Linked DNA regions of Homo sapiens. The protein of the gene in region 2 purifies or fractionates together with the protein of the main gene of each other region. This does not show direct contact. Each region holds a gene or a part of one and is shown on either strand. Other genes may lie near its edges.

What was found.
Region 1: the proteins of CD96 (region 2) and NIPSNAP2 purify together in Homo sapiens (affinity purification with mass spectrometry, with the first as the bait; one large-scale study listed by BioGRID). This does not show direct contact.

What each region holds. Positions count from the first base shown.
Region 1 is NC_000007.14:55,997,180-56,000,679, reverse strand, and holds the end of NIPSNAP2 (protein NipSnap homolog 2), read right to left. Parts: intron 3,315-3,500; coding exon 3,231-3,314; intron 1,673-3,230; coding exon 1,608-1,672; 3' UTR 501-1,607; downstream 1-500. UniProt on the Homo sapiens protein: Protein involved in mitophagy by facilitating recruitment of the autophagy machinery required for clearance of damaged mitochondria.
Region 2 is NC_000003.12:111,540,210-111,546,131, forward strand, and holds the start of CD96 (T-cell surface protein tactile isoform 2 precursor), read left to right. Parts: upstream 1-1,987; 5' UTR 1,988-2,039; coding exon 2,040-2,100; intron 2,101-4,836; coding exon 4,837-5,193; intron 5,194-5,922. UniProt on the Homo sapiens protein: May be involved in adhesive interactions of activated T and NK cells during the late phase of the immune response. Promotes NK cell-target adhesion by interacting with PVR present on target cells.

The sequences.
Region 1 (3,500 bases), on a different chromosome or scaffold from region 2:
CTGCCTCAGCCTCCTGAGTAGCTGGGACTACAGGCACATGCTACCATGCCCAACTAATTTTTCGATTTTTTGTAGAGATGAGGTTTCATTCATGTTGCCCAGGCTGGTCTCAAACTCCTGCGTTCAAGGGATCCTCTGGCCTCGGCCTCCCAAAGTGTTGGAATTACTGGTGTGAGCCACTGGGCCCGGCCACTAGGGTCTTTCTAATGGCCTCCAACACTCAAGGGATCCAGCCCTGTGACCTCTGAGCTCGTGTCCCACCACACTCTCCCTCATGTCTGCTTCTGCCACTGGCTTCTGCTGCCCTCAGCACATACCAGGCATGACCTTGCCCAGGGCCTCGTAATTTGTTCCTATGGAGGGATTTTCCCCAGAAGCCAGCTGACTTCCTCACTTCCTTCAATCTTTTGTGACAAGCTATTTTGCAAGAGTGACAAGGTCATTCACAGCAATGTTTGTCAATCTCAGAACAAATTAAAAAAGAAAATCCAAACGTGATATGTGGAAATTAAGAGGATTTTATTGACTTTTCTATGTTCTTTGAGAAAATCATTCACATGTAAAAGTTTGACATTTGATATGAGATTTATTCACACTTTACACATACATTCTTGATTGTGGGGCAGACAATTGTTCATTTCAACAGGACTTTCACATGGTAACAGTCACAAAATTGGCATACTATATTAAAAAATGAAATCAAACAGCTAGACAAAAAGTATGCAGCTTTATGCCAATTTAAATCTCAACATGCACCACCCCTCACCCATGATCTCAGAATTATCTGCTGTGAGCTTATTAAAATATTAGCCAGAGAGTGTCTGAGGTCACAAATGATCGTTTACAAAATAAAACCTCTTTTCCTAGAGCTACTTGTTTTGTTATAGAAAAATACCACAAATAAAAATTAGTGCTATTCAAGGTGTTCATTTCAAAATCACATATGATACACAAGTTTCAAGCCATTGTTTTTGTGTCTCACATTGAAACATCACAATACATGATGTGAAACTGATTTACTGATTAAATGTACCTTGCCCAGCTTGGAAAACCCATTGTCTACTATGTGGACTGCTTACAAATGAGAGTGAGTTAAAACATTTTCAGTTATTGGGTACACTTGTAATTTGTTCCTCCTCAGAAACTACTCAGAAAAACTGCTTGAGAAACATGACAAAATTTGTATTTCTTCCTGATACAAGAAATTTGTCTAAAAATCTGTGATTATAAAACAGATTTGTTTTTTGGTTTTTTTTAGTAAAGAAATGGCTAAATTTTTTTTGTGGTTGGAATCTTATTTTCAAGATGATTCAGAATTCAACGTGGACCCCTTCTGGAGGGTGGGGAGAAGTGGCTCAGTGTTATAAGGTATACTGGACAACACGGGGTGTTTCAAAGAGGACGACAAGGCACTGTCACAATCAGTCCAACTGTAATTCTTTCCTTTCTTGTGATTATGTAAATTTTAAAGAAAAGAGGTTTCTCACAAGCTATATACAGCAGCTTAAAACCTCAGTGTTTCTTTTTCACTTGATACACAATTAAAATTAATTTACGACAAATACTTGTCACAGAAATGTATGTAGGCACATAGAAACTCTACAGCTTTACTGGAGGGGCGAGGTCTTCAGTGGGATCATGATTCTGGATTCCATTTCCTGAATAAGTGGAACTGAAAACAAGATCAGGGTTACTGCACTTGTTACTTTCTAAACACATTATGGTAAATGACACTAACAGACAGATTGCCGAGAATGTTCACAGATGTGCTGCTTGAAAACAAGAGAATATCATAATATACAGGACTAACCTCAAGGGCAGAAATATACAAGCGGACCCTGTATCAGCTGCCATCCTACAAGATGCTATTAAAATTACAACAGATCAGCTGGGCGCAGATCACCTGTAATCCCAGCACTTTGGGAGGCTGAGGCAGGTGGATCACGAGGTCAGGAAATCGAGACCATCCTGGCCAACAGGGTGAAACCCTGTCTCTAGTAAAAATACAAAACTTAGCTGGGTGTGGTGGCGCCTGCCTGTAATCCCAGCTACTCAGGAGGCTGAGGCGGGAGAATCGCTTGAAACCGGGAGGCGGAGGTTGCAGTGAGCCGAGATCGCGTCACTGCACTCCAGCCTGGCGACAGAACAAGACTCCGTCTCAAAAAAAAAAAAAAAAAAAAAAAAAACAGATCCTACCTGGATATTTGTTTTATTTGTGGGAGGTAGGAAAAGTCCATACTGTGAGGAGAAATGGTGATTTCTCAAACGTTCGCGTAAGCAGCAAAATCAAATACAATTATATAATTATAACATGTAATTATATGTTATATAATCTCTTGAACTGAAAGACAAGGTAACACCTACTTTCTAGGACAAATTACTCTTTTATTTTCTTGGTAGTATAGGGGCTGAGATACACTTTTTTTTTTTTGAGACGGATTCTTGCTCTGTCACCCAGGCTGGAGTGCAGTGGCACAATCTCCACCTCCCAGGTTCAAGCGATTCTCCTGCCTCAGTCTCTCAAATGGAGACAGGTTTCATCATGTTCGTCAGGCTGGTCTCGAACTCCCGACCTCAGGTGATCTGCCCACCTCAGCCTCCCAAAGTGCTGGGATTACAGGCGTGAGCCACTGCGCCCGGCCTGAAATATACTTGCCATGCAACATGGCTGGTACTGATTACCTCTACCAATGCCACTGGGTTACATTCAGCCAACTGTTTTCTTTTAAAAATCAAGCAAACAGGGTTTCATAATATACTTATGTATGTGCACATGCATGTATTATGTACCCAGATACATACTGTACATACAGGAAGTTTAATTTATCTAATTTCAAAATCACTCTTTAATTGATGTATTAAGTTCTGATTTGGGATACTAACAATTCTGATGGAAAAGGAAAGCTTAGAAAAAAATTTTATTTGTGTAATAAGTTTTCAGAGAATATAGAAATCTACAAAAACAGGTAATGATGTAAAATTTACAACATCCAAGGGTCTGAAAACTGTAACAGATGATATACCTATTTGAAAGCATGGATATTCTACTTTATTGAAAAAAAGTCATGTAAGTATTAGAGAAAAATTGACTATCTCCCTTCCCCCCACAACCTGATAACTCACTATCCTAGCAACATACTATTACAAAACCCACCTATTAGTGTCAGGGTGAAAGAACATGATTGAAACAGTAAGACAAAAAGCATATTTCATGGCTGTTAAGAGATTACCTGTGTAATATACCAATTCCTCCCAGCCATGTTTGTGCCATGCTGCATTCCGTATGTCTTCCCTGGTCTGAAGATCCCTGTAAGCTTAAAAATAACCACACAGAGAAGTAAGACTTAAAACACATACACTGCATTCCACCCATACATCCGTTAAAGTCTTGCTTCACCTGGACATCTAGTTTTCTCAGGGACTACTTCAGGTGTGTAATATACTGGGCTGGGGAAATTCTGAGCAAAATTATATTAGGCCACGTGGGAAAAGCAAACTTT
Region 2 (5,922 bases):
TAAGTCTGTAGCACTGGAAAATAAACGACCATTTCCATGTTTCTGAGTTTACAGACTTTTTTGGAACAACTGTTTCACTTTAATACAATAAAAGATAGGAGAAGTCTAAATACCCCAAAGAGGGTATTGTTCTTAGAGAATTCAATAAATGTATATTTGAATTGGTTTCTACTTAGGTAAATTCCTCTTAATATGAAAAATGGAACGAGATCATAGAATCCCTTCTCCAGGCTTGTAATGTGTCCTGATTTAATAGGGACACCAACGTGCAAATCAGGATCTTCATAGTGCATCTCCAGGACTATTTTTGCTGCTATGCTTCATAAAACTTTGATTTACTAGAATTTCCAGGGGCAATGGGAAGAGATGAAGCTACCCAGAGCAGTTATGTCTCTTCCTGACCTTCTATAAAGGACTTTGAGTTCCCAGGCCTTCCCTGGAAAATCACTGTCAGTACTACCTGACCCAATATCCCCAGTGACCTGAAACTCATGGGAAGTTGGGAAGGGGTGATAATAAAGGTTTGGGGAGCACTGGACTAGGCAAGCAGTAACTACATCTAAATTCTGCAAGAAATCATTAGCTGAGGAATACTGAATAAGTATGGCAATTATCATGGCAAGTATTTGCAGTGGTGGTATAGGGGGTGATCTGGACGTCCAGGAAGACAGTCGCCCTTGTTTATTTACATGAAAACCTCTCTTCTCCCATCTAAATTTAATCTCCTGAATGGCAAAAGCATTTCCTTCTGTCTTAGCATCGTCCATATTCACCACGAGTCCTTGCATAGGAGAGATTGGTGTATACATGATGACAACCTGACGAAAATTATCTCCACCTCACCTGAAAAGAATTCCCATCTCAGGATTACAACTGGCCTTTTCATTTGTCTTTGGTCTTGCTAGGTGGTACGTATATTCTAGTAATGAGATTAGGGTCACAGGATATTTTAATCATTCATACGGTTGTATGAAGACACACATGTTTATTTGTAGTTATTCTTTGTCCATCAAACTTACAGTAGTCCTCAGTCTAATGCTTGTTTTCTTAATGTTGGAGGGTGATGACAGCCTATTTTATCTCAGGCTGAAAAACTAATACAATTAAATCAGAGAATCATAGCAGGGAACAGTCATCGTGTTCTACGAATAGCCAGACATTTTTACCAAGGGGTCACTTTCCTGAAACCTGTTTGCGGTTCTCTGTAAATAGAAGTAACTAGGCAGATGTAATAAGCCTAATAGCTCACTGAGGTGGGAATTCTCTGCCTTTGGATTCTGATTGTTACTGCCTTGCTTTGGCTTAGGCATGGATAAACTCTTCTGTGGTGAACAAAAATGGCCTCCAGCCAACCTGGTGGGAGACTTCCCTATCTGACCTCCAACCTTCCCTCGTCTTCCCAGACGAGGGGTAGAAAAGTAGCCCTCACTCCTCCACTCCCAGGAAATGTGCATTTCCCTGCAAGAGGAGAGACAATAAAATTTGGTTTGATAGCTGACACTATTCCCTGTTACTTTTCAGATTTTATTAAAATTAAATGTGTTAATTCTTTGTTCTTTCACCCCAGGGCAATTCTGGAAAGAAAACATATCTTAAGATTGAACAGAAAAACTATTATGAAAAACACCAAGCTCACATTTGTTAAATGACTTTGTGCTCTTGAAAAAAATGTATAAAAAGCACATTGCCAACTGCTCTGCGTGATATCCTTTGTTTGGATTTTAGACGCAGCTTGACTGACACAGAGATCCTGAATAAGAGACTCTTTGGATACTGAAAAGTCTCTTAAATAAGGTGATACACAAATTTCAGAGAACAATTTCAACATTGTTCTGTCGAACGTTATACTCAGTCCTGAACCACATTACTTTCCTGTCTACGTTTCATTTCCTGGGGGCTTGCCAAGTGATAAACAGACCCAGGCGTGTGTGGTAGAGTTCGGGTTTTTTAGCACGAAGTGGGTGGCTGGAGTTTGCTTGAAAACATCAATTGACTTTGTGATCATTACAGAAATGCTGGTGTAAGGTGTTCAGAAGACAATGGAGAAAAAATGGAAATACTGTGCTGTCTATTACATCATCCAGATACATTTTGTCAAGGGTAAGACTTCCAGTTGTCCCTTCTTGTCGGATGGGCCGCTTTAGGGGCGGATGGGGCCTCTGTTCATTTAAAATGCCTTGTGACTGCTGCTGAAATTGATCACCAAAGGACAAATCATTACTAAGGGTTTCAGTTATGTATTTAAGCGGCAGGTATAAGAGAGATGCTAGAATCTAGAAATGATTACTAATGAACACTAAAAATAAGAAGGGAATGGGTCATTTGTGCCACTGCTCTGAGGCATTTTCACCCATTTCCTTTCTAACAGGATCTCTGGAGTAATTGGCAAATTGTGTTTCTTGGAAATGAAATGCTCTCCAAATGGTAGCCAAAACAACTGCGGAAAAATTAAAAATTACAAAGCCATCAACGCTCAGAGATCCTTGTTTAACTTTTTTCTCTCTCAAGTACTCTCTTTCTTTTGGATATAACAAGTATTTCTCATCCAAATACTAAGGTCTTTGGGAGTTGAAAACACGTTGAATTTTAATGAGGCATGTGTAGGTATGAACCTGGGAGACAAAGTGGAATCCTTATGACAGTGGGAACGAGAGCCTAATGGGCCTATTTAAAAAGAGAAGGAAGCAAGATTAGTTCTGTATTCCACAGTATGAGAGTATCATAGTAAGCCTGAGTGTCTTAAGAATTAACTGTGCTTTTCAGACATAGCTATGAAAATATTAAGGAGAATTTCTAAATCAAAAGAGATTTGGAATATAATGCTGTAGATAGGATCAGAGCCATATTTTCAGGCAAAGGATAGCTCACAGGAAGTTACATTAAACTGTACTAACCTCTGCCTACCAAACTTTTGCATCCACAGAAGTATGATAATTCCCATTTGTCAAGTACTTTTACTTTTAAGAGGCTTGTTTCTTCTCAGTTGCTTGTCATCTTTTTATCTTTTCCTTTTGTGAGCTTCAGTGGTACTTGTCACAATAATATATATCATTTCTGTAACAGGATTCCATGTTAATTCTAAAACTGAGGCCAACACTATTGAAGGCATGTCACAGTCTCAATGCTTAACACATTTTAAGTGTCCTGTATCACTCAGTCAGACTGCTGATGGGAAAGAGACTCTACTTATGTCTAGTATTTCAGACCATCGATTAGAGGTGATACTAAGTGGAACCTCTACCTAAGGTTAGATGAGGTCCTTTCAATCCTTGTATATTGAAAGTGAAATTTCTTACTCTAATCAACTAGACTGAATTTGGGAGACAGTTTGGAAGTTATGTGGAAGGAAAATAAAATAAAATAAGTAATAATAAAGTTTAAAATAATAAGCATAACATAGGTAATAGTTAACATTAAGTATAGGTTACTTAGAAGTTATATGTAGGCTAAGAAATTTAAGTAGCCCCTCCCAGCATTGCTAACAAGTTGCAGCTGTGAGCTTATCTCAACCTTCCAAGCTTCTTGCCTGCCCCCAGACCCCCACATATTTCTGTAACTCCTGTTTTACCTTACCCCATCTCTGTCTAGCTTCAAGATTGACTGGTTAAGATAACTAAATTGTAAGTTTTCTCAGAATTGTCACGGGTTAAATAATTTACTGTCTTTGCCTGAAACCTGTATCCTGCCTTGTTTTCCCACCTCAAACGACATATAAGCAAGCCTGCTTTCTTTGTCAGAGTCAGCAGCCATTTTGGGCATGAGTCTGCTGTGGGCCTGGATGCCTGAATTAAATAAAGTTCTCTTTGGTCTCTAAAGGTCTCTTTGTCTTCCTTGGCTGGAGTTTTACTGTTATACTTATGAGGGTTATAGAAAGACCACAGACTCTGGGCAACTGAATTCATTCTTTTACTGGAGGTGTGACTTTTTTTGTTTTGTTTCGTTTTTCGTTTTTTTGAGATGGAGTCTCACTCTGTTGCCAGGCTGGAGTGCAGTGGCATGATTTCGGCTCACTGTAATCTCCGCCTCCCAGGTTCAAGCGATTCTCCTGCTTCAGCCTCCCAAGTAGCTGGGACTACAGGCGTGCACCACCACGCCCAGCTAATTTTTGTATTTTTAGTAGAGACGGGGTTTTGCCGTGTTGGCCAGGATGGTCTGGTTCTCTTGACCTCATGATCTGCCCACCTCAGCCTCCCAAAGTGCTGGGATTACAGGCGTGAGCCACTGCGCCAGGCCTGGAGGTGTGACTTTGAGCATACTGTTTCATCTCTCTGTGGCCCAGTTTCTTCCTCATAAAAAGGGGTTAACAACATCACCTATGGCGTGTGAGGGGGATTAAACAAGATAAGATATGAAAGGCCCTTGTAAACATGTATTTTTCAAAGAAATTGCTATACACATATCATTTATTTTTGCAGTTTCAGAAAGCATCACGTGTGTATTATATTCAGCTGTCGTTTTATAACCCAAAAAGCCAATTATATTAAACGTAAGAAGAATCGTCATACTAAGTTTGCTGGTGTGCTTCAATTTTCAAATAGGCTTAATTTTATTCACAGGTAGTCTGAAACCTTCAATTATATTTTGGTCAGACCAACACATAGATAAATATTTAGAAGTCAGTAATTACCTCTAGCTTCTCTACGTAAATGCCTCCTCATTTATATTGTCTCATGCATCTCTATCTGAGTGAGACACAAGCTCTACTCTATTCCTAAAGCAGCCAGGGAGAAATTTCCTCAGTTGCTCCCCTCACCTTACTGAAGTGACTAGGGTTTTTAATTAAGCGTCATTCTATGTGAATTATTTAAACTCATGGCTCATGTTCTTTCTTTTCAGGAGTTTGGGAAAAAACAGTCAACACAGAAGAAAATGTTTATGCTACACTTGGCTCTGATGTCAACCTGACCTGCCAAACACAGACAGTAGGCTTCTTCGTGCAGATGCAATGGTCCAAGGTCACCAATAAGATAGACCTGATTGCTGTCTATCATCCCCAATACGGCTTCTACTGTGCCTATGGGAGACCCTGTGAGTCACTTGTGACTTTCACAGAAACTCCTGAGAATGGGTCAAAATGGACTCTGCACTTAAGGAATATGTCTTGTTCAGTCAGTGGAAGGTACGAGTGTATGCTTGTTCTGTATCCAGAGGGCATTCAGACTAAAATCTACAACCTTCTCATTCAGACACACGGTAAGCATAACTGGTAGAGGGATGTGCTTTCATTCAGCTCTCTCTCATTCAACAAATGTACATTTTAAGAAAAGCAAGGTTAGGCTTGGTGCTCAGCATACAAAGGTTGAGCAGAAAGAGCTACTGTCTGATAAGAGAGACAGGAAGTGACCACAGCATTTAAGTAAATAAATGTAAACTTGCAACAGTGATAAGTGTCGATAATAAATACTGTAACAGTCTTGTGAAGGAGCACATCACAGAGGCCATTGAAATTGTCCTTTAGAAATTAACACCATAGCTTAAGTCTAAAGAATGAGTAGACACTACCACAATTTAGGAGGTGGGGCTGAGGCAGAGTGGGATTGTGAGTAATCCCAGAGAGAGAAAAGAGCTTGCATGAAGCTCTTTGGAGTGTTTGAAGAAATGGGAAAATGCCAGTGGGACAGCAATACAGCAATTAAAGGATAAGGCAGGTAAGGACCAGATCATGTTGGACCTGGTCAGCTTCCCTTTTAAAAGGTTTCTATTTTGATCTCAGAACCATAAGAAGACATGGAAGTATTTCCAACAAAAGGATGGCATGACATTTATAGGCTGACTGTATTTGTGTTGTTTAAAAAAAAAAAGTCATACTGACTTTCATGTGAAAATGAGGTGAAGATGGACAAGAAGGAGAAGGTAGAGACAACTCAGGAGACCACCTCAGTAGCCCAGAAAAGAGAGAGTGGTAGTTCAGGTAGATATAGA